Homo sapiens: one gene and its partners. The protein of the gene in region 4 interacts with the protein of the main gene of each other region in a pairwise test. Each region holds a gene or a part of one and is shown on either strand. Other genes may lie near its edges.

What was found.
Region 1: the proteins of PTK7 (region 4) and DUSP18 interact in a two-hybrid assay, tested with the Homo sapiens proteins (one study listed by BioGRID and IntAct).
Region 2: the proteins of PTK7 (region 4) and CLNK interact in a two-hybrid assay, tested with the Homo sapiens proteins (one large-scale study listed by BioGRID and IntAct).
Region 3: the proteins of PTK7 (region 4) and PPM1F interact in a two-hybrid assay, tested with the Homo sapiens proteins (one study listed by BioGRID and IntAct).
Region 5: the proteins of PTK7 (region 4) and STYX interact in a two-hybrid assay, tested with the Homo sapiens proteins (one study listed by BioGRID and IntAct).

The regions. Positions count from the first base shown.
Region 1 is NC_000022.11:30,660,899-30,664,930, forward strand, and holds the end of DUSP18 (dual specificity protein phosphatase 18), read right to left. Parts: intron 3,183-4,032; 5' UTR 3,106-3,182; coding exon 2,539-3,105; 3' UTR 547-2,538; downstream 1-546. UniProt on the Homo sapiens protein: Can dephosphorylate single and diphosphorylated synthetic MAPK peptides, with preference for the phosphotyrosine and diphosphorylated forms over phosphothreonine. In vitro, dephosphorylates p-nitrophenyl phosphate (pNPP).
Region 2 is NC_000004.12:10,681,878-10,685,916, reverse strand, and holds the start of CLNK (cytokine-dependent hematopoietic cell linker), read left to right. Parts: upstream 1-1,148; 5' UTR 1,149-1,249; intron 1,250-4,039. UniProt on the Homo sapiens protein: An adapter protein which plays a role in the regulation of immunoreceptor signaling, including PLC-gamma-mediated B-cell antigen receptor (BCR) signaling and FC-epsilon R1-mediated mast cell degranulation.
Region 3 is NC_000022.11:21,942,780-21,946,380, forward strand, and holds part of PPM1F (protein phosphatase 1F), read right to left. Parts: intron 3,330-3,601; 5' UTR 3,270-3,329; coding exon 3,064-3,269; intron 656-3,063; exon of another isoform or gene 1-655. UniProt on the Homo sapiens protein: Dephosphorylates and concomitantly deactivates CaM-kinase II activated upon autophosphorylation, and CaM-kinases IV and I activated upon phosphorylation by CaM-kinase kinase. Promotes apoptosis.
Region 4 is NC_000006.12:43,079,214-43,082,814, reverse strand, and holds part of PTK7 (inactive tyrosine-protein kinase 7 isoform a precursor), read right to left. Parts: intron 1-3,601. UniProt on the Homo sapiens protein: Inactive tyrosine kinase involved in Wnt signaling pathway. Component of both the non-canonical (also known as the Wnt/planar cell polarity signaling) and the canonical Wnt signaling pathway.
Region 5 is NC_000014.9:52,747,164-52,750,764, forward strand, and holds part of STYX (serine/threonine/tyrosine-interacting protein), read left to right. Parts: intron 1-3,519; coding exon 3,520-3,601. UniProt on the Homo sapiens protein: Catalytically inactive phosphatase. Acts as a nuclear anchor for MAPK1/MAPK3 (ERK1/ERK2). Modulates cell-fate decisions and cell migration by spatiotemporal regulation of MAPK1/MAPK3 (ERK1/ERK2).

The DNA of each region.
Region 1 (4,032 bases), on a different chromosome or scaffold from region 4:
TCCTGATCTTGGCTCACTGCAACCTCTGCCTCCCGGGTTCAAGTAATTCTCCTGTTTCATTCTCTAATCTCAGTAGCTGGGATTACAGGCACTTGCCACTACGCCCTGCTTTCGTATTTTTAGCAGAGACAAGGCTTTTGCCATGTTGGCCAGGCTGGTCTCGAACACTTGACCTCAAGTGATCTGGCCACCTCGGCCTCCCAAAGTGTTGGGATTACAGGCATGAGCCACCACGCCCGGCCTCAATTGTATTTCTATATACTAATAATGAGCAATTGGAAAAAAAATCTACAATAGCCACCCCCCCGCCAAGTGAAATATAGTTTGAGACCCATTCATGGATCTCAAATCCAAAAATGTGAAATGCTCAAAATCTAAAACTTTTTGAGAGCTGAAATGACTATCAAAGGAAATACTCATTTAAGCATTCTGGATTTTAGAGTTGGGATGCTCAAGTAATATTTGCTTCAGGTAAAGCAAATATTAACCTGAAAATAATCCAAAATATTTCTGGTCCCAAGCATTTCTTTTTTTCTTTTCTTTTTCTTTTTTTTTTTTTTTCTTTTTGAGATGGAGTCTCACTCTTGTTGCCCAGGCTGGAGTGCAATGGTGCAAGCTCGGCTCACTGCAACCTCCGCCTCCTGGGTTCAAGCAATTCTCCTGCCTCAGCCTCCCAAGTAACTGGGATTACAGGCACCCAGCTGTTAAAAGAAAAAGCATTTGGCTTCTACTGGAATCTGGAGCCACAGTTTGGTGTCAAACAGAGCAGCTGTGCTTTTGTTTCAAATGCTGTTTGCTGAAAACCTCTGGATCAGAAGAGCTGGTCTTCAGCCAGGTCCTTGGCACCAAGAGGATGTGAACAATCCTGAATTCCAGGGCCTACTGATGGAGTCCACTAGTTAGTCCCTTTGACACGGCCCCCTTATGGATCCCAGTAGTCAGCCGGGGTGCAGGTTTTCATAGTGATTCTAAACAAGGCTGCAGTCACTGTTTAGAAGTGATTGGGGGAAGCTGGAACTGTGCTCCTTGTTTCAGGACCTCTAGATTGCACCTAGATTAAACAAGACGGAAGCTCTCAAAAGGCTCTAAGTCTAGGCCTCCTGTGAGGTAGGGTCTGAAAGGACTTAAACCATTTTTTTTTTTTTTTTTTTTTACACACAGGGTAACTTTTTGGAAGAGTACTTTGTAACAATAAAGTGCTGTGCACAGAAAGGAGAAATGCCATTATGGGGATGTGTGTGCCGACCTGGGACCAGCAGGGTGAAAGAGTCTATCATTCATGATGAGAGCTGCCATTTGCGCTAAGCACACACCATGTGCCAGGCACTATGCCAAGAAATTGTTGAATCTTCACAATAACTCTGTGAGAAAAGGGCTGTCATTGGACAGATGAGGACACTGATGCTCCCAGGGGTCCACATCACATGAAGAGGAGGTGACAGGGCTGGGCCTTGGTCCGAAGCTCCAGCCTTCCAAGCCAAGGCCTGTGAGAGGAACCGCTGAGACCTGATGTTAGGCCTGTTTTTCTCATGTGCCCTGGAGAAGGGGACTAACACCATCTTTTGCCAAAGTTTGGTGAGGGATGGCCAAGAGCTCTTTGAAACTTTGCCATGTACAATAGCACTCACAATTTTTTTTAAATTTTTTATACAGTGGTATCGGGGTACAGTGGCTCATCAACACTTTGGGAGGCTGAGGCGTGAGGATTGCTTGAGGCCAGGAGTTTGAGACCAGTCTGGGCGACATAGTAAAATCTCATCTCTATAAAAAAAGAAAAAAAATGAGGCGGGCATGGTGGCAAACATCTGTAGTCCCAGCCACGCAGGAGGCTAAGGTAAGAGGATCACTTGAGCCTGAGAGGTTGTGGCTACAGTGAGCCATGATCACACTACTGCACTCTAGGATGGGTGACAGAGCAGGACAGTTTCAAAAAAAGACAAAAAAAAATTTACACAGTGGAATGCTTTCTTTAAAAACTATCTTATGCATAAGTACAATCTAGAAAACCAGAACTGGGCCACTTATAGTGAAGGTGGAAGCAGAGGTGGCCTGGGACCCCCCAGGATTCCTGGAGCACTGCCTGAAGGCCATTTATCTAGTAGATTGGCACTCACTGTAAGAAGCGCAAGAGGTACCATGATGCTTAAGGCTCTGGCTCTGGGTGTGAAAGAATGAGGTGGAATTGTAGCAGATTCATTCCTGGGTCAATCTGTTTTTGGGGAGGGCTGCAGGATTCCAGGCCTGCCATGTGCAATGGGTGCTGCCCTCTTTCTTCTGGGCACCATCTGCCTCAACCTATCCCCTGGCCAGTGTCACTCACAGGGCAGAAAATTTATCTTCACCATCTCACAATTAGTTTAATCTTAAAAAAAATGGATTATAAAGTTAAAAGCTACAGCAACTCTTTTTTGTGCTCATAAAAGGCATCATCTGTTTTTTTCTGTATCAACAAAAGTAGAATGTTCAAGTTTGGATCTTGGTGTAAGATCAACAATAGATCTGTACCTCTGACTCCAATGCAGGGGCTCGTGGGATGGCTCACAGTGGAATCATCAAACGGACTTCCTTCTCATAGATGTCAGGGATCATTCCCACTGGGGAACTGACCATGTGCACAGTGTTCTTGCCAAACAATTGGAACTCATAGTGGATGAGCTGCTCCCAAAAGCCGCTGTTGGGTCGGATGATGGGCCGGCATGACTTGGTCCACGTGTGGGCGTCCAGCAGGGACATGGCGTGGTACTTCATGAGGTAGGCGAGGCACAGGGCAGCTGAGCGGCTCACACCAGCAGCACAGTGCAGCAAAGTACGGCCCTGCTTCATCTCCACGCTGTGGATATGGTCAGCAATAGGGTCAAAGAAGTCACAGAGACGTGAGTTAGGGGAGTCAGCCACAGGTACCTGCATGTACTGGATATCCTCATACAAGGTGTTCACTACCTCCACTGAGACATTGATGACCATGGTGATCTGGTTGCTAGACAGCATGAGCTTGTTGTTGGCGGCCACACCATTGCTGATATACAGGCTTTTGGTTATCTGCGAGAGGCCGCTGACTGAGGGCTGCCGGAACTGAACTGGGAAGGCACACGAGGGTGCTGTCATCAAGGCGGTGGGTCAGTGGTCAGCAGTCAGCGAAGCACGAAGGCTGCGTCTTTCTGCTAGGCTGTGTCCATGGAAAACTGCAGAGAGGGAGAGGATGTTTAGAGGGCAGGTGCCCAGAGGGCCAATTCCAGGGGATCCCTGGGAAATGGATGGATAGGCTTATAGCATTCCCCAAGGCAGTCCTCTGACCATCACAGCAGAACTACCCAGCAAACTCATTTAAAGTACAGATACCCAGGTCCCTCTCCAAACCCACAGTCAGACTCTCGGGGTGAAGAGCATGAATCTGCATTTTCAGCATGCTTCTCAGGTGGTCTAATGTGCACTGCCCTATAGGACAAATGGCAAGTCCCCAAGTCTGGCACTTGAGGCCTCCCTTGAGGGGTCCCACAGCTCTAGTTGGGCAGATGACTTGTGTCCCTCAGCTGTGCCTTGGCCTGATTCTCCATTTAAGCTCACAGAGCCCTTTTCTTGCTGCTCTTCCAAATTCTCTCCTTCCTTCCAGCCCCTCTGAGTGGGAACCATTTGTACAGTCTTCCTCCTCAGTCTTCTGACTTTATGCCCAAATCATAAGGTCCTGAGCCAGTGGCATGGAACCAGAGCCCACTGTGCTGGCAGTCACTGAGGAGGCTGGTATAAGAGTAGGGAGGGTTCCCATTTTCCCCCTCTAAGAACCATCTCTTTAAAGAGACAGGATATGCCCATGCGAAGCTGATGTCAAATACAAAGTCCTAAATTGTTAGACATGCTCCTGCACCTTGCCTCTGAAGAAGGCCTGGGAAAGGGAGTGGCTGAAAGCTTCCTGGAAGCCAGCATAATGGGCACCACAGCAACCCCAGGGACAAGCACAGAGACAGCAGGGCCTTAGGAAGACCTGCCACACCTGCATCATGCTGCCTGCAGCAGAGCTGTGAAACACACCCCAGG
Region 2 (4,039 bases), on a different chromosome or scaffold from region 4:
AAAGTGGTTACTGCTTTAAGCCCCTAATGCAGCAAAAGCTAATTAATAAAGTGGTTAAACTACTCGAGTCTCCCTAGTCTTCAGTTTTCACAATTACAAAATGGGATTTTACATATGTTCCTTACATGGTTATTAGTAAGATTAAGGAGGATAATGCTTGCAAGTTGCTTAGCAATGTAACTGACTCACAATTAGCATTCAAAGAGTGCTTATTTTCATGTTTTCCTTGGGGTGTCTGTTAAGTCAAAACCAGAGTTATTTACCCAAGAAAATATAAACTTCTACCTTTGAATTTATTGTAAATAATGTTGGAGTTTGTTATGGAATTCAACATCAATTTATATAAAACTAGAATGTCAAGTCTCCAGAAGAGGAAACAGGCACTCGGCAAGATCAGCTTAAATGGACCAAGATTAAGGCCGAAAGAAAATGTATTAAGCAACTGATATGTGCCCAAACATTACTGCATGCCTTTATTTACAATATTTTGTTTATTTATTGAAATACTTCTAAAATATAAATATTATCCTTCCATCACAATTGAGGAAATATCATTTCCTCAATGAAGGAAATATAATCCTCAATTATCCCTCATTTTTTAAAAAAGTTTCTAAAATACAAATATTATTATCACTCAAACTACTTGAGAAATAAACTTCAAAGTGCCCAAGATCCTATAGCTAATAATTAATACAGCAAGAATAAGAGGCAGGCATTTCTCCTTTAGTTCCCAGGTTCTTTCCTTAACACCTGGTCCATGTGTCTGGGATGGTCTCAGGAAGCCATTGCAAAATTAAGCCAAAAGATGATAGTTAATGTCCACTATTCATATAAAGTGAGACTCGCAAAACCCACCTTCCATGCTTGAGTGTTGCCCAGCAGTTCCTTTTATTGTGTTCTGGTAACTATGAAGTGCCACATAAGGACACCGTGTGTCTTTAAAAACACCCTTTGCATTGGAAGATTTCAGCCTCTGAAAGCTTCACGTATTGCACTCCAGCCTAAGAAGAGGAAGTCCTGCCAGCCCTCAGGTCAGACCTCTCAGGTCTGTGGCTGCATTTCACAGGAAACCAAGTCTAAAACGGACCTATCAGGAGGTTTTCTGCTGAAGGGCACTGCTTAGCATCGAGAAGAATTCAACCCACCGCCTTACTAATTTCCAGTGCCCCAAGGTCTCTGCACTGCCGCCCCTCCTCACAGGAGACGGACACCTCAGCCTAGATCCCTTGGTGCTCTCCACGCTGTTCAGGTAAACTCATTAGGCCAGTTCTTCTGAGTGAGGATCTCATGGTCATCTCCTTGTCATAAATGATCATCAGGAAAGACCTGAGCAGCAAGTAAAAATGTGTTTCTAAAGTGGAAGTCTGGGCCTTATATATAGCATCAAAGGAGCAAGAAGAAAGCCCTTAACTCAATTGTTAAAGATCCTTTCATTCTTTTGGGAGAAAGAATCAGGATACCTACCCACAGAAAATTAAAAGACTAAATGTTTTCAATCTTCTTTTCCTGGAGCTTGGACTCCCCGACTGTTTGCAACTGAAATCTAAAGACCAGGCCCCATGGCTGGCTTTCCTGGCTGACCTTCATTAAGTAAGCCCTCTAGAAAGAAAGCCTCCATTCAAAGTAGGTCATTCAAAGTATAAGTTAACTCCTGGAGCCCTGTGGAAATATATTTTTAACATTTTCTAAAGTAATACGATTTTCTTTCTGCTTTGGTGTAGAGGAGACTTAGACTTTGGAATCACGCAGACATCCTTCCACTCACAAGAGTAAGGAGCTCAAAAGTGAGGTTAAAGTTGGGGTTAAATTCTTACTCTTGAAAAGTGCCGGGAGTCATCTCTACCAGGCTTTTATTGGATAAAGCAAACAAACTGGAATGAGACAGAAAAGAAAATAACTATCATCAAAATATGGATACTTTGATTTTAAAAGGTGTCGATATGCCTGAACTTTTTATCAATACTGTTTTTATTACTTTACACCAGTGTTACTCATTTGGCTTCTCTGTTATGAGTATTACTTGTCTATTACCTACATGGCTATTTCTCTGGCTGTCTCTGTCTATACTGTGGCGCAGCTCCTCAATAGTGTTGTTCTTTGGATTTCCAGGGGCCTCCCAAACCACCAGGAATAATCATTTCAAATATCAAGAAGACGATGGTAGAGCTGGTTAATTGAAGGCCTACCAGAGAAATGACAGCGCTTCAGAAATCCTCTAAGAAGCTTAAGATACAGTATGCCCTAGAGAAGTAGGAATGGCAACTGGCATTTACTTACCTTCAGCTCCTGCTGACCTAGAGAGCTGGCTATTACTTTCCCTGGTTTACAGGTGAAGAACTTGAGTTCTCTAAGTAATATGTGCAAGGTTGTTCAGTCACTAATGTCAGTAACAGAATTCAGAAGGAAACTGATTTTCCTGGCTGACTGATTGGAATGGTGAACAGTGTTAGTTTGCAGTTTCACAGAGCTCATCCCTAAACTCACTCCTGGGTGGTCTCTGACACCAACCATCTAAATGGTAGTATTTCTTTGTTATTCCCAACAAGCCCTCTCAGATGACTGTATAGGCAAGACCATTTGAAAGCCAGTGCTTATAATCTTCTGTACCATCTGGCCAGCTCTGGCCTGAACACCAGGGGATTCTGTTTCTCGATCACTTTGCCATGAGTCAGGTGCTGTCTTAGAAAGACTGTAGGATTTGACGCCTGATCAAAATGGTGAGGATCCTGACTCTGCCACTTGGACCAGGGATGTTGTTTCATATATGATCCTCATTTCCTCCCCCTTTTTAATAAAGTAAGATCTCATAAGACTTGTATTGACAATTATTTAGCCTCAATAATATAATATTTATATTACGTGAAATATGGTGCATTCTTAACACTTAGCAAGTATTCAGTAAGTGTTGACTTCTTTCTCCATTACTTTCCTTTCCTCACTCCAAATCAGTTCTGATTTTATTCTTAAAACATGACCACAATCAACATAGAATTGATTAATACACATAAGTTTACAAATATTGTATTTTAATAATCTCATTAGAGAATGGTAATATTCCACAGTTGTATAGCCCTATGTAATGTAGGCCTTTGAATACATATTTTCTTCTTGAATGATCTTAACAGCTTAATGAAGTAGGCAGAGCACGTATTAGAGCATTTAAAAGGTGAAACTGGGGCTTAGAAAAGATGAGGAAGGACAACATGGTGAAATGGAAAGAAACAGGGCTTTGAGATTGTCAAAAATGGACATGAATCTAGTGTGTGACTTTACTGTTCGTCTTTAGGTAAGTAGCTTAACCTCTCTGATCTTTAGTTAGCTGTTGTTGGAGTTGTGTAATTTGAAACTGGGAGGAAGAATACATTTTGTGTGTTGCTTCGAGAGTGAGAGCAAATGTGCACACAGTGTCTGACACAGAAGAGATAGCCAGGAACTGGCTAAATTTTCACATGAAGAGTAGCAGACAGAGATCTAGAAGCATCCTTTTCTGAATCCTAGTACATGGAGCAGTTATATCCACTGTCATAAGCTACTGCCAACATCTGCCAAGACTTGAGTTCTGCAGAGTTCTTCTAGGCTGTACCTACCCTCCTAGCATGACAAAGAAACATAAAGTGTTCAAAGCGGCTAAATTACTAACCAGAGAGATAAATACCTGAATTTAAATTCTATTTATGATTTTTAACAGATTAAACCAAACATTCACGATTTTACCAATAAAACTGAGAAGCATCAGGTTAGATATCAGCAATAACGAAAAAATCACACACACACACACACACATACACACACACAAACAGAATTGTGGAATAGAGCTATCATAGGACCAATTTTTGTGTTTATTATTTATTTTTTGTTACTCTTATGGGCAGAATATTTGGGAATCATTATTGTGATTATTCTGCTTAATTTTAATCATGTCTTCCAAAGAGCAATGACTTACAGGTTACCATTTAAGTGTTGCTGATAGACAAGAAACGCTCATCATTTCTCACTTTTTAAGTAGGTGTACTTAATTCTTACTTTACAAAACGGATTC
Region 3 (3,601 bases), on a different chromosome or scaffold from region 4:
AGGCCCTCAGCCCTGAGTCACTGCACCATGCAGATCCACCCTGATTCTGGTCCCTGCAGAGCAGGCTCCTACACAAGGCAAGAAGATGCTCCAGGGACAAGCCAAGGTGTATGCAAGGCCCAGGTGCCTGAGAAACACGTCTCACCGACCTTGGGGCAGGGGCTGTTACAAGAGGCTTATAGTCTAGTGGCAGAGACAAAAACCACACTCAAATCATTAGTGTACGGTATGCACTGCTCAGGGACTCAAATATGTGACAGGAGGCTCCAAACAAGAGCGGAGACAAGGCGTAAATAGCCCCCTGTGGACTGGATGTTCTGACTCCTGGATGGCCTCCAGAAGGATGCCTTTTACGGTCTGTGAAAGAGCTCAGGGACCAAGATGCTCAAAGCCCTTCATGCCCAAGAGCCCCTCCTCAGGCTGGGACACGGGAAGCAGAGCTCGGAGGTGGAACTCGTGACTGTGTATGGGCACATGTGAGTGCGTGTGTGTGGACAGCCAGGCTTAGTGTAGACAACGTGTGAGGCTCAGACCCCAAGTGCTGACTACACCTATGCACATCCACACCTGCGTGTGAAAGAAGATGCTAGAAAAGAACAAAAATAACTTAAAAAATAAATCCAATAAGATGGCTGGAACATATAACAACTTCAAATACTCCATTTTAGTTCACCATGTAAGGTGGGTTCCTGGGGGCTGAGGAGACTCGGGAGCTCTGCACCCCTCCTGCTCGCACCCATCACTAGGTGGCTCACACAGCAGCCGCTCAACAAGTCTGGCTGCTCTCGCATCAAAACCAAAACCCACTGCCCTCCCCTGCGCCCCCAGCACTGACCCCAACACTTTGGTTCGGGGCCCTCCTGGGCAGGTCACCTGCACTGCCTACTCACTCCTCAGCCCTCCAGGCCCTCCCACCTTGGATCCTTCCCTGGGACCCTGCTCTGCGCCCTTCTCCCCCTGCCCAGGAACTGAAGGCTGATGTTGTCACCCCGGTGCTGCGGCCTGTCCGTCTTCAGCACCTGTGCCCCACGCAGGCCCAGCAAACCCCTGGGCTCTGTTGTTCCCCGGGATGGCTTTTCCATCTGATCCCCAGCTTGGGGCTGGCACCGCTTGGCTTTGCCCGGTCACCTCATGCTTGGGCCAAAGTGCACCAACCCTTCTGTCCCGGGCCTGGCTTTTTGCCTCAAGGCAGCAATGGCCCCATGCCACCTCCACGAAGACCCAGTGGCTGCAGAACTCCCTGGTCTGGACTCCCCTGCTCCCTGCAGAGTGCCACCTGCTCCTCTCAAGAAGGCAGAACGTGAGGCCTTTCCTCACCTCCCGTGCATTGGCACCCCTGCTGGGCCCACTCTGCTCCACCACTGGGGGCTGATTCACTTTGTGCCACATATCTAAAATATTTCCTCAAAACAAGCCAATAACACCCTTTGCGCATGCCATGACCTCATGGAGCGTGGTCACCGGACATTTCCTCCTGAGCTCTAGGCAGCTGTGGGGGATGCTGGGTGGCATAGCCCTTGCATGTGGCTGACACTTAGCAATGTTTGTGCCCATGTTGCACAGGGAGAGCACAAGTCACTGACTCTGCTAGGGCCTGGGGTCAAGGAAAATAGGCCCTTGGTGGGTGTCAGGAACAGAGTTGATTCGCTGCAAGGGGCAAAGGAAGTGCACACTTGGGGGATACTGAGGCAGCCACCGAGGATGGTGGCTCTGTCAGAGGGAGCTATGGCTGAGGGCCTGTCATGGCTTCAGGTGATATTTCAGGTGATTTGGGTGATGCTGGGACTGGGGACCATGCGCACATCCCCTCAGCAAGGGACTAGGTTCACAGAAACAGCACGCGGCCCACCAGCCTGCTCACCTCCATGAGCTGTCCCCTGTGCCAGACAGACAGCCTAACTCCAAGACCCTGTCTGAGCAGAGAGGGTTCGAGAAAAGACCTTGTCCTTCACCATCTTTCATGGGACAAATGCTTCCAGAATGAATGAATAAATGAAGGGGAGGGCAAGGGTCTTCCAAGGAAAGGACCTCTGAGTTCAGCCTAGGCGACAGCTACACACTGTCTGCCGGTGGACACCCAACTCTCTATCTTCCCCGAAATCTGCTCGGCTAGTTGTGCTACCTCTCTGTGCCTCAGCTTCCTCACCTGTGGAAGGGGGACAGTGCCAGCTATCTCTCAGATCGTGGTGGCTGGGGTGCCATGTGGCTCTGCCACTCCTTGACTGTAAGGCCTCAGGCCAGCCTCTTCATCTACCCACCTCTGCCTCCTCGTCCATCACACGGATCGGAAACAGGACGTACTGCTTATCAGCTGCTATGCAATAAATTGTGTTCCCTAAAAGGTATGTTGAAGCCCCAGCCCCCTGTGGCTCAGAATATGATCTTATTTGGAGTTAAAGTCTTTGCAAATGTAATTAGTTATGTTCACATGAGGTCACATTGGCTGGAGTGGCTCATGCCTGTAATCCCAGCATTTAGGGAGGCAAAAACATGAGGATCCATGGAGCCCAGAAATTCGAGACCAGCCTGGGCAGCATAGCGAGACCCCATTCTCCACAAAAAGAAAGATGAGATCACACTGTAGGAGGGCAGCCCCTGGTCCAAAATGCCCATGTCCTTACAAGAGGAGGAGTCACAGACACACAGCAGGCAGGGTGGGGAGGTGTGAAGGCACAGACACACACATGGGGAGATGCCGTGTGCAACAAGGCCAGCTAGGAGGAATGAGTCTACAAGCCAAGGACCTCCAGGAAGTCAAGGCCAGGCACTAACAGAAAGGCAGACTCTTCCCTGCAGCCTTTGAGAGAGCATGGCGCAGCTGCCACCTTGATCTTGGACTCTGGCCTCCAGCCCTGTGAAAGAATGAGCTTTGGCTGTGTTGAGTGCCCAGTGTGTGGTGCTTTGCCATAGCAGCCACGGGAGTTCCACATGGTGCTGCATAGGGATCCGGGGCTGCAGATCCCCGTGTGGGGCTGGACGTGTAGGGGAGCAGCAGCCACATCCCTTGTCGGCCCTGGTGCCGTGCCCTTACTCCCCGTCCCCTTTGGGGGTGCACAGGCCTACCTGCTGCCCAGAAAGCCCATGGCCAGCTCAGCCAGCTCGCCCTCCACCTCCTCCTGGCTGAGCACCGTCCCTGGGGCCTTCCATGGCAGAGGGTCCTCTGGGTTCAGCAGGGCTGGGAAGTCTTGCAGGAGCGTGTCCAGGAAGCCTGGGGTCTCCTCAGCTCCACTGGCCATTGGGCTGCTCTTCTGTGGGGCTCCAGAGGACATGCCCAAAGCATCCCGGGGGCCTGCAGCTAGGCCAGGGCAAGAGGGTCTCCAGGCTTCACCCTGGGGAGAAATGTCAGAGTCAGCAGAATCAGGGGGCCATGGCACCAGCAATGCAGGTGCCCACCTGCAAGCACCATGTGGCAGGTGCATGGCCTCATGGTTCAGGGCCACTAGAGGGTGGAGGGACAACCCTGGCCACTGTTTTGACATGAGTCCAGGTGGGGACTTGTGGGCATCCAGAGATCCGGTCTCAGGAGATGGTGCCAGGAGCAGCAGCTGGGTGGACATTGTCAAGAAGTGACAGAGGAGGAAGACTGTTCCTGGCAGAGGGT
Region 4 (3,601 bases):
AAAGCTGAGGTTCTGAGAGGAGCTAAACATCAGGCTGAATATTGCAGACTTCCTAGAGTCACACATTTAATGGAGAAATTTCTTGACAAAATCTAATTCAATTTAAACCCAAAGGAGGTAATATTAAAGCGTACACATCACCCCAAGGAGTGTTCGCATAAAGTGAGTTATTTAAAGCAAATCTTCAAATACTGTGCAGCATCTCAGCTCCCAATTTATACTGTTGCAACAGGAAAGCTCTGTGCCTTGAGATTCTGTATAAAGAAGGATGCCTAGGCCAGGACTTCTGGAACTCTGGGGTACAGAGTCACCTGAGCATCTTGTTAAAATGCAGATTGCAGCAGGGCACGGTGGCTCACGCCTGTAATCCCAGCACTTTGGGAGGCTGAGGTGGGCGGATCATGAAGTCAGGAGTTCGAGACCAGCCTGACCAACATGGTGAAACCCTGTCTCTACTAAAAATACAAAAAAATTAGCCTGGCGTGGTGGTGCGCGCCTGTAATCCCAGCTGCTCAGGAGGCTGAGGCAGGAGAATCGCTTGAACCCAGGAGGTGGAGGTTGCAGTGAGCCAAGATCGTGCCACTGCACTTCAGCCTGGGCGACAGAGTGAGACTCCATCTCAAAAAGAATAAATAAATAAATTGCAGATTGCGATTCTGATTCATGCTCCCAGGAATGCTGATGCCACGTGGCCCTGGGTCTTTCTTCAAGTAGCACAGTTATAGATACTCTAGGCCCCTACCCAGTTCTCTGAGGAAGCAACTTTAGCACCAGTTTTTAAGTTGCAGTCAGCTTCATACGTAGCGGTGCTTACCCACGCACAGAACTTGGAGAAAGCTAGAAGACCCACCACATCAAAACTGAGAAAAACCACCACCAAAACCAGCCAGCCCAGGATCAGGGAAGGAAGGTCTGATCCTTAATTTGGTCACCGTAGAGCAGGCGCAAGGAGGAACAGGCAACCCCAACTCAAAGAAGCTGGGGAGGGTGCAAAAGACTCCCCATGCCTAGGATGCAAGGGGATATTTAACTCCACCCTTGATCATTCTGCCCTGCACCCAAATGGTTCATTCACTTTTTAAATAAACCTATATGAGGACCTGTTATATCGGCTGGGTGCAGTGGCTCACGCCTGTAATCCCAGCACTTTGGGAGGCTGAAGTGGGCAGATCACCTGAGGTCAGGAGTTCGAGACCAGCCTGGCCAACATGGGGAAACCCCGTCTCTATTAAAAATACAAAAATTAGCTGGGTGCAGTGGCACACACCTGTAAACCCAGGTACTCAGGAGGCTGAGGTAGGAGAATCACTTGAACCTGGGAGGTAGAGGTTGCAGTGAACCAAGATCGTGCCAATGCCTCCAGCCTGGGAGACACAGGCAGACTCCATTTCAAAAAAAACAAAAACAAACAAACAACAAACAAAAAAACCACCTACATAAGAACCCATTATAAATAAGTACTGTACTAAACTCTATGGGAGAGCCCCTCAGTAAATTAAAACAAAACCCAATAGGGGCAAAAATATGGATGGTGTCGCAAGAATGACAGTCCAGAAGTTCTACAGTGTCTACCTTCTGGCAGGAGAGATAGGACAGCTTCAGGGAAGAAGAGGCGGTGGGGCTGGGCAACAGAGAGACAGGAGAAGGCAATGTACAACCGGGGACTGGCCCGAAGGAAAGAAAGGTGGGAGAAAACCAGATATGTGTTAGGAGATGGCAAATATTCCAGCTGGACTGGAATGGAGGGTCCCAGTAGGTAAAATGTCTATTGTTGGGAATGACTGTAAAGCTGAAGGAATCTTTGAAGCACACCACAGAGGGAAGACCAAGAAAGGGCTGTGTGTGTGTGTGTGTGTGTGTATTTTTTTTTTTTGAGACGGAGTCTCGTTCCGTCGCCCAGGCTGGAGTGCAGCGGCGCGATCTCGGCTCACTGCAACCTCCACCTCCCGGGTTCAAGTGATTCTCCTGCCTCAGCCTCCTGAGTAGATGGGATTAGAGGTGTGTGCCACCACACCCAGCTAATTTTTGTATTCTTAGTAGAGACGGGGCTTCACCATGTTGTCCAGGCTGGTCTTGAACTCCTGACCTCAGGTGATCCGCCTGCCTTGGCCTCCCAAAGTGCTGGGATTACAGATGTGAGCCACTGCACCCGGCCTACTTCATTATACTTAATCCTCAGCACAACTCTAGGATGTCCCTTTATAGAAGAGGCTGAGAAGCTAAGAGGTTCATCCAGGGCCACAGGGCCTGCCAATGAGTCTGAGTTGCTGCTTTGCCAGATATACTCCTTATCCCTGGGCTCCACATCCCTCAACAGAGGATCAAAAACACTGGGGGAAGATAAAAATTAAAAACAATACAACAATAAAAAAGAATACAAATTAAAGAATACAACAGTTATTTACATAGCATTTCCATTGTAATAGGTATTACAAGTAATTTACAGATTTTTTTGTTTTTTTTGAGACAGAGTCTCGCTCTGACACCCAGGCTGGAGTGCAGTGGTGCAATCTCGGCTCACTGCAAGCTCTGCCTCCCGGGTTCACGCCATTCTCCTGCCTCAGCCTCCCAAGTAGCTGGGACTACAGGCGCCTGCCACCACGCCTGGCTAATTTTTTGTATTTTTAGTAGAGATGGGGTTTCACCATGTTAGCCAGGATGGTCTCGCTCTCCTAACCTCATGATCCGCCCACCTCAGCCTCCCAAAGTGCTGGGATTACAGGCGTGAGCCACTGCATCCTGCCCTTTTTTTTTTTTTTTTTTTTGAACTCTGTCACCCAGACCGAAGTGCAGTGACACAATCATGGCTTACTGTAGCCTCAACCTGCTGGGCTCAGGCAATACTCCCACCTCAGTCTCCTGGGCAGCTGGGACCACAGGCACGTGCCACCATGCCTGGCAATTTTTTTTTTTTTTTTGTACAGGTGGAGGTCTCATTGTGTTGCCAAGGCTGGTCTTGAGCCCCTGGGCTCAAGCGATCCTCCTCCCTCTGCCTCCCAAAGTGGTGGGATAACAGGCGTAAACCTGGCCCTTAGAGATGATTTAAAGTATACAGGAGAAGCTGGGCATAGTGGATCATGCCTGTAATCCTCATACTTTAGAGCACTGAGGCAGGAAGACTGCTTGAGCCCAGGAATTTGAGGCTTCAGTGAGCCAAGATTGTGCCACTGCACTCTAGCCTGGGTGATAGAGGAGACCCTGTCTCATAACAAAACAAAACAAAAGTATACAGGGAAGTTGTGTGTACGTTATATGTAAATACGACACCATTTTATATAAGAGACTTGAGCACCCTTGGATTTTTTTTTTTTTTTGAGACGGAGTCTCGCTCTGTCACCCAAGCTGGAGTGCAGTGGCACGATCTCGGCACGATCTCGCCCAAGCTGGAGTGCAGTGGCACGATCACTGCAAGCTCCACCTCCCGGGTTCAGGCCATTCTCCTGTCTCAGCCTCCCGAGTAGCTGGGACTACGGGCACCCGCCACCACGCCTGGCTAATTTTTTGTATTTTTAGTAGAGACAGGGTTTCACCGTGTTAGCCAGGATGGTCTCAATCTCCTGACCTCATGATCCGCCCGCCTCGGCCTCCCAAAGTGCTGGGA
Region 5 (3,601 bases), on a different chromosome or scaffold from region 4:
CTTTAATGGACTTACTCAGTTGCAGTTAAAATAGGTAGATCTCATTTTAATAAATATAGCAATGTTCTTGCCACTTCTAAAAGATTCAATGCTACTAATTCTCTTTGAGTTACAACGTGGAACATATCATAGATGTCTTTCCCCAATACTTTGCCTATTCAGAAGTCAGTATACTTAAATTGTGTTTGATATATCCATAATTTAATTTGATGTTCTTAGGAATTTAACCGGTTTTAAAAGGTCATTGATTTTGAAACTGGAAGATTTTTTTGACAGTTGAGACATGGCTAAGAGTAAACCTGGTCATCTTGATGATTTTTGCTTAGTTGGAAAGATAGGGAGTTAGTAAAAATAAGTACTAGGGAAAGGATAGGGCAGGTAACTATAGACATAGCCGTAATTTATTTTGTAAAAGACAGATGTAAACAAGGTTATTGTCCATATAATTTGCTATTCACCAAGTACTAGTCTTCCAGATGGTTTTAGATAATTTACATTTTTGAAATTCCCACTGTACTTTATAAATATACATACAGTATTTATCACATTAAATTAAAGTATTTGTTTAAAGGTCTATCTCCTCAATGGGAGGCTGAGGCAGGCGGATTACATGAGGCCAGGAGTTCGAGACCAGCCTGGCCAACATGGCAAAACCCCGTCTCTACTAAAAATACAAAAATTAGCTGGTTATGGTGGTACACACCTGTAATCCCAGCTACTCGCGAGGCTGAGGCGCGAGAATTGCTTGAATCTGGGAGGTAGAAGTTGCAGTGAGCCAACATGGCACCACTGTACTCCAGCCTGGTTGACGGAGTGAGACTTTGTCTCAAAATGAAACAAAAACACGCACAAAAAAAGGTCTAGTTCTTCAAAACTTCTTTTCTTGAAATGTCACCATGGTCTTATTAGACAGGAAAAGCCTCTGTGGCAGTTTATTTCCCACCCTAGGTAACCATAATATAGCCCATATTTCTTTTCATACCATTATCTAAAAACAACAACAAAAAATAATAATGGAGATAAACCTAAATGGATAAACTCCTTTTTAAACACTCATTTACTGTTATTATTTTGTGGGAGAGGAGTGGGGTCTTGCTCTGTTACCCAGGCTGGAGTACAGTGGCGCGCTCTCATAGCTCACTGTAACCTCAAACTCCTGGGCTCAAGCTGTCTTCCCACCTTAGTCTCCCAAGTAGCCAGGACTACGGGCACACACCACCATGCCTGGCTTAATTCTCAAAGTTTTTGTAGAGATGGAGTCTGGCTATGCTGGCCACATTTACTTAAGTATATCTTTTTATTAAATTCAAATACAGTTTAAATAAAAGGGACAAATTTAGGGCCTTTGTAATTAGTAAACGGTTTGTTTTTGTAAAGTTTTTCTACTGTTTTTAAATGTGAGGTAAGGTCATAATTTGCTTCATATTAGGTTGGTGCAAAAGTAATTGCAGATCTGCCTCTGAAAAGTACAAAATCTATTCGCTGTTACGTTAGGGCTCTATTTTGATAGTTTATTTTTATTTAGTAGTAGTCTATTGGGCCTTCAAAACTTGTTTAAGCATATTTATACATAATTATGTGCATCGTCTTGTGCTTTCTCACATTCATAAAGTAGATAGGAAAACTCCATAGGCATCAAGTGTAAACGAAGGACTTAATGTTGAATTTGTTGTGGAAATTGGCACAAATCTCAATATAGAACATTGGTTAATTATTAATCTTACCAAATGCTTATCTCACTTTCCCTAACTCAAGTTATACTCAAGAAATACAAAGATAATTGAATTCTAATCTATGCTGACATAAAACTTGCTGCAGAAATTAACACTTAAAACTTGCAAATTATATTGTCTTAGCCCAGGCTGCTCAAACAAAATACCATAGACAGGGTGGCTTAAACAACAGACGATTATTTGAGTTCTGGAGGCTGGCAAGTCCACAGTCATGGTCCGGCTCTGGTGAGGACCCTCTTGCTGGCTCGCAGATCCCTCCCTTCTTGCTGTATCCTCACACGGCCAAGAGAACGAGTTCTTGCCTCTTCTTACAAGGGTACAATCCTGTCATGGAGGTTTCTACCCTCATGACCTCAATCTAAAACTGATTATCTTCCAGAGACTCCACCATCACATCTTGGGGGTAAGGATTTCAACATAAGAATTTGAGGTGATGCAAACATTTAGTTCATAACACATATAAATTATTTTTTTTTACTTTGCTCATGAATTATTAGTGCTACTGTTTTGTACTATTTAAAATGCAGAAAATGGGAATTAAATATATAGGATTTAAAACAATGTGTCAAGAAATTCAAGGTTATCTGATTCTCATGCCATCGTGACTTGTTAGTTCATTTATTGAACAGGTAATTATTGAACAACTTAACTAGTTATACATACTTGATACTTAAGTGAATTGTATTATACATTTTACACATACTATGTATCAGTGAACAAATAAAAATCTTTTCTGTCATGGAACTTAATGCTCTAGGTAATAAAATAACATCTATAAACTCACTTAAACTTATCACTAGCAAATGAAAACTTATTATCTGGTAATTTCTAGAATTGTCATGTTAAATTGCTTTAAGTATGGAGCCAAAAGCACTACAGGTTGAGTATCCCTAATCTGAAAAATCTGAAATGCTCCAAAGTGAAACTTTTTGAGTGTCAGCATGACAGCACAAGTGAATTCCACACCTGACCCCATGTAATGGGTCACTGTCAAAATTTTGTTTCATGCACCAAATGACTGTATGAAATTACGTTCAGAGTATATATGGTGTGTGTGAAACATAAATGAATTTTGTGTTTAAACTTGGATACCATCCCCAAGACATCTGAGTATGTATATGCAAATATTTCAAAATCTGAAATCTGAAACACTTCTGGTCCTACCTTGGGACCAGCATTTTAGATAAGGGATACTCAACCTGTATTGAATATAATAAGATGTCATTGAAGTTGCCATTTTTAACTTCAGGAAAATTTTTAAATGGTAAAAGGTTAATTAGATTCTGTGAAGTATGTAAATTAATTCTGACTCTTAAAGTATACTGGGAGAGGCAAGGAGTTGTCTAGAGATTTGGGTTCCAGTACTGCTGTTAACTAGGTCGGTGATGTCCAAGTATTTGGTAATGTAACTGTTTTATGTCTTAGTGGTTCTCTCTAAACAATAAAGATTGCAGTCAATATATATTAACTACCATTTATTAAACACTTGCTGTGTGTCCCAGGTGCTATGCCAAACATCTTACATAAAGGTTCCATCAAGCTCTAAAATTGTAGGTATGAAATATCCCTGTTAACCTTTTGAGGACATTAATGTATTAATCTTGAATCATTGAAATATCTTGCTGCCCACTTCAGGTATATTATAAAATTAGCTTTAATTCCCTGGACTTAAGCAGAGATGTGGGTTCTGTGTATTTTCAAACATCTGTGTTATATAGTAAGATGATGTTTGATATTTTAAAATATTTATCTTCCCTGTCCTCCCCCTGCTTTTTTTTTTATACAGCTACCTGTACTACAGAAACATGGAATAACCCATATAATATGCATACGACAAAATATTGAAGCAAACTTTATTAAACCAAACT